2 separate regions of the Homo sapiens genome follow, and region 1 is linked to region 2. Evidence: fine-mapped expression QTL. A gene starts in region 2. The other region holds a variant in brackets. All regions are shown on one strand. Distances are from middle to middle. Region 1 has its middle 9.7 kb from the start of CHD3. Region 2 holds the start of TMEM88 (transmembrane protein 88).

Region 1 (3,026 bases), 24 kb before region 2:
ACCTAGGCCTAAGAAGTTTGTCTTCCTCCTAGTCTAAAAAGCTTTCTCCTGATTAAAGCCTTCTGGCTCCACTCACATGCCACCTTAGAGACATTTTATAACTCTTTGAAGGAGACAAAGACACAACCTCTAACCAGGTCTCTTTGAAAAAGATGATAATAAAACTTCTACACACAATGCACTGTTCTTTCATTTCTGCTTTTTTACTGCCTGTTTTCCTGAGTTTAACTGTTTCAGCCTCTATCTTTGTGTCTCTCCACTCTTTCCCTCTTTCCCTCTCTTACTTCTCTTTTCTTGGTTCTTTCTTCTTATCTGTCTGTCTTGATCTCTATTCTAGCCTCTTTTTCTGATTGGCCCTCTCCCCTCTCTTCTGTCTGATTGGCCTGTATCCTTCCATCACCCCATCTGTCTGCTGGATTCTCCCTGTCTGCCTGCAGTAATGTATGTGATAGCACTTTATAAATTATAAAGCACTATGTTGTATAAAACACCATTATCACTTTGTCTTCCTTCTTACCTTATTTTTTCTTCCTTTATCTGTCTTCCCTTCTTCTCTCTTTCTCTCTCTCTCTGTTTGCCTGTCTGCATCCCTTTTGGTGATTTTGCCTGCCTTCTCTGTCAGTCAATCTCCATTCCCTCCCTGCCAGCCTATTTTTCTGCCATCCCTCTTCTCTGTCTGCTCAGTTCTTGCATCTCTCCTTCTGTGTTTCCAGGTTTCTCTATATTTCTTTTGCCTGTGTAGTCTCTCTGTCGTTAGGCCTTTTATCTATGCCTGTGTGTCTCACTGTCTAGCTGCTTGTCTCCCTGCCTGTCACTTTCATTGTGGGGCATCAGTCTCTGCCTTCTTCTGTCTTTCAGTACTTCAAAAAATAAAAATTAAATAAAAAATTTAAATTCCTTATGATTAATGGGTACAGGAGAATATTTTTTTTGTTTTAATGAGAAGACTATTAAGGTGAGAACAAAGAACTCAAATATTCAGCTGTGAAATGCAAATGAAGAAAAATTTTTAAGGGACTCTCAAGCCAAGAATAAGATTATTTAACGCAAAAGCAAGAAACATATCTAAAGCAATAATTTCTAACCTTTTAGGATCGTAGAAAGTTAGAAACTTTCTCCAGAAAAAAAAAATACACACAAAATGTCACATATGTTTTCACGGTGTTACGAATACCCTGAAGTCTTGGACCCCAGGTTAAAACTCTGATGTAGGGAACCAGTGATAATCAGTGATAGAGCACAGACATGTACTCATACAACAAGCAGAGTAAAAGACTGAAAAAACACTTGCAATCTATGATTTTCTACCCAAGGATATGTTAAAGAGATTCCTAATTGTCTTTTGAAATATGTAGGTCAGTGATAATAATGAAAGGCATGTAAATACTCAGGATAGTCTAGACCTAATCATAGTATTTTAGAGATGGAAGGTCTTATAAATCAGTGGTTCTCAAATGGCTAAGAAAGGTTGCCACATGTCCTTTACTGGAAAAGTCTGTCCTTTATTCTGAGAGGATATATTTCTGATATATATTTTTACATAGAATAAATATAGTATACAGTATATTTATATAGGATAAATATATGTATATATGCTTATATTTTATGTTATAAATTATGTTACATATTATTAAACATATATACACATATACATATTTATAATGTTAAAAACTTCCTTTCTAAAGCTGAGATAGATCTGTATGGCAGAATGTGAGTAGATTTTAGTGGGGAAGGGGGAGGAAAAGAATAAGAAAATGACTTTTT[A/G]TACTTACTGTACAATCTGAAAATTTTCAACATGTACTTCTTTTATAATTATACAACATTTTAAATAATTTTAAATATCTTTTTATGAGACGTAGTTTCATCCTTGTTGCCCAGACTGTAGTGCAATGGCGCGATCTCAGCTCACTGCAACCTCTGCCTCCCGGGTTTCAGCCATTCTCCTGCCTCAGCCTCCCGAGTAGCTGGGATTACAGGCGCGTGCCACCACCACACCCGGCTAATTTTTTGGATTTCTAGCAGAGGCGGGGTTTTACCATGTTGGCCAGGCTGGTCTCGAGCTCCTGACCTCAGGTGATCCACCTGCCTCGGCCTCCCACAGTGCTGAGATTATGAATTTTGTTGTTCTTAATGTCCTTACTCAGCACAATGAAAAGTCAGCAACCCCATGTTGATCACTAACTTTTTTTTTTTTTACATTTTATTGATCATTAAAATCTAAAAGTCTAGGATTTACTGCTTTAATCTAACCTGTTCTTGATTTTATCAAGGAGGAAACTTCAGTCCTTCATATATCATATTCATGATTTGCCATATCTATATATCAGCTATACCATTATATGCATACTATTTTTCTTTAAATCACTCACCTTTCTTTAACTTAAATGAATGTTCTTTAAAAGGTAAATTTTATATTGCTAGAAATAATATTCATAAGTCTTTAATTTGATACTGTAATTATGTTTTTCTTTCTAATTTAAAATGCAATATTGTTAAAATAAAAATCAATAAAAGTAAAAGCATCTTGCATGCTACTAATAATATAGGTACATATTTTAGAAAATATCACTTTAATCTAATTTTATAGGTATAGAAACTGGGGCCTAGATATTGAAAGGATTACCTAAGATCAAGTTAGTAGTTAGAGACAGAACCAGGACTTGAACTTTTATCTTTCGGTTTCCAATCTAGTGTTCTTCTACTATATACTACATGAGTTTTAAGTCAATGAGATGTCCTAGAGTTTTAAAGGACACTAATATGTGAAACTGATGGTCACATATATTACTGTTATTAACTATAACAACTATGCCACAAAACTAGCAAGGCCAATTTAATAGTATGTGTTATACTTATAAACTTAGTGTTTTTTGACACAGAGTTCCACTTCTCACCATTTATTATAGAGAAACAGTCACCATACTTATGCATAGGGTGACATTACAGAGCTATTCATTACAACACTGTTTGTAACAGCAAAAAACTGGAAACACCCTAAATCTCCAACAGTAAGGAATAGCTAAACA
Region 2 (2,500 bases):
CTCCCAACCAAGATGTCCAGGGGTGCCAAAGGTTCTCTCAAGTTCAGGGGTAGAGATGGGGGGCAGGGCTGAATGACGGACCAACAGGCCCCAGGGTGGGCCCCTGCATCTTCCCTCCCACGGCTGCTGCTCCAGAATTGTGGCGGGAGGGGGTGTCATCCTGCTCCGGAAGGCCCATTGTTTCCCACCCCGGCCTGGCAACACCGAGTTCCTCTAAGCTGGGGTCAGAGAACGGGCTCAGGTCCCCAAGGGGAGCAGCGGCAGGCGGCCGAGGCTGGGCCCCTCCACTCTATTGAGGGGGAGGTGCCTGGGGTCAGGAACAGATCTCTGAGGTCTGGCCAGGAAGAACGGACAAAAGCGATAAGGCCAGGGGGCTCAAGGATGCTCCTCTCTGCTCATTTGTAGCCCTGGCACATGTTTCCTGTTCCTCGGCACAGGGCAGGGGTGATAGTACTTGTGCCACGCCTCTGTTCGCAGAGCGCGTTCAGTTCGTTAAATCTTTATTGATGCGTGGACACTCCTTCCCCTCCAGCCCCGCCCCCCAGCCCCAGAAATACTAGAGAAGCTGCACCATAAAACGAGGGCACGAGATTGTTGTCCCATTCACGACGGAGCTGAGGGGGAGGTGTGCAGGTTCCAGCCTAGATGTTCAGGATTGAGATGTGGGTCGTGAAAGGAAAGTGGGTTTTCCGGGATGTGGGGGCTTTTCTCAGCACTGGGTCCACTGACGCTGCTGCTCCCAAGGGGATGCTAGGACTCCGCTCAGGCAGGGGTGGGGGCAGGGCAGGTCGGAAGATGCCGGGCTTCAAGTCCTTGGGCCGAATAAGAGGGAGGGCAGCCGTCAGGGTTGTTCTTGACTCGAGGGTCATTAGACCCAGACCTTTCCTGATGTGGGAACGGCCTGGGACCCTGGTGAGGCCCGGATTTGCCGCGGCTGCGGGGCGCGCCGACGCCGATAAAGGGCTCGGCTGTAGGGCACGAGGCAATCGGCTAGGCGGAGGCGCAGGCAGAGGCGGCGGTAGCTGGCCAGAGCAAGCACGAGCAGCGGCACGAGGAGCAGGAATCCGGTGACCAGTAGGGCCGTGAAACCGGGGTCCCGCAGGTGCGCGGTGCAAGGGGGTGCCTGGGAGCGCAGGAACTGTGGGAGAAGAGGCGTCAGGCCCAAGCCGACCAGGCGATACTGTGCACGGGGTGGAAACAGCCCAGGCGGGTTGAAGTTGTGGCCCATAGACCCCACCGCCAGCATCACCACACACCAACACTCACACTCACACGCACACCCCGGGGCGCACGCTCACCTGAGAGTGGCAGAGGAAGCCGAAGCCCAGCATGGTGACAGCGGGTAGCAAGATGGTCCCTAGCACCAGCACCAGCAGGAGAAGATTGAAGGCAGCCACCAGCAGATTCTGGGCTGTTACAAGAACAGCGCAGGCCCAACAGTCCAGGGGGTCCCGGGGCTCTGGGCCGTCACCAGGAACCGCTCGCTGTGCCCCGGGGACATCCGCCATGGCCCGCCTGGATCCCGCCCGCCTGGGCCGCTGCCCTTATAGCCCTCTTTCCTGCCCCTCCCCCGGCCCAGCCTCTCCCCACCCCCCTTATCCTGGAATGCGGCTCTAGGATTAGGCACCCCCCATCCCGAGGAGCGGACCAGAGCCCTGGACATTCCACAGGCGCCTCCGGGGAGGGGCTCACCCTCGCCAGGGTCTGCGCAGTCCTCCCCATCAATCACGGTCTTGCAGCCCTCCCGGTACTCAACCTGCTACCACCAGCCGTTAGCGAAACAGGATTTTTTTTCTCCGTTTATTTTTAATATTAATATTCTCACACAAAAATCACCGAAAATAGGGGTAGGGTTGGGAAGACCCCTCTGCCCCTGGGGCAGAGAGACAGTGCAGTGCGAGGGTGCGGGACTGTAAACCCCCCACCCCTCCGCAGCCCCAGCGTGGAGAAAAAACAACCAACAAAACGAAAATAAAGCCCCAGAGAAACTCACCCCGGGGTGTCCCTGCCCCAGTGAGGCCCTGGCCCTGGGTTGTTTCACACTTAAAAAGAAAAGGGGGTGGGGGTGAAGGTCTGTGTTTTTTAAAGTTGGCCGGGGCTGGGAAGGACGGGGTTCCTTTTCCTCATAGTTCTTTCTTTAAAACCTTTAATTTTTTTATTTTATTTATTTTTTTTACAAAATACCATTTCAGTTCCCACTTCTTCCCCTACAGTACAGGAGTTGCTCACCCTCAGGTGGGGCTGGGGTCGGGTCGGGAGTGGGGGGACTGGTCCGAGAAAGTGCAGGACGTAGGGGAGGGGAGCGGGTTTGAGCACCATGAGAACCCGGCTGGAGCCGCGGGCGGACGGGTGGAGACGGTCGGGCCGGGCCCGGACACACACTGGGGCGCGGGGAGAGCCCGGCGACGGGCGGTCCCTGGAGGGGCGGGCAGGATGGCTTGGGGGTGTGGGAGGTCGGGTTTTCCCAAAAATGAATAAATAGAGGTGAGTGGGACTGTTA

Evidence for each region.
Region 1: its variant is fine-mapped to the expression of TMEM88 in whole blood (TOPMed, PIP above 0.99).

The regions. Positions count from the first base shown.
Region 1 is chr17:7,877,551-7,880,576 of GRCh38, reverse strand. It overlaps a transcript of NAA38 not described here. Among named protein-coding and RNA genes, the nearest start is that of CHD3, 9.7 kb to the left of the region's middle. The variant A/G (reference allele first, on the strand shown) is at 1,765.
Region 2 is chr17:7,854,083-7,856,582 of GRCh38, reverse strand. It overlaps TMEM88 (transmembrane protein 88), which reads right to left and starts at 1,517. Exons shown (of 2, transcript NM_203411.2): 1 at 1,299-1,517; 2 at 484-1,138. The coding sequence starts at 1,508. The coding sequence ends at 869. It overlaps KDM6B (lysine demethylase 6B), which reads right to left. Exons shown (of 24, transcript NM_001348716.2): 24 at 1,787-2,500. RefSeq lists an enhancer at 61-598.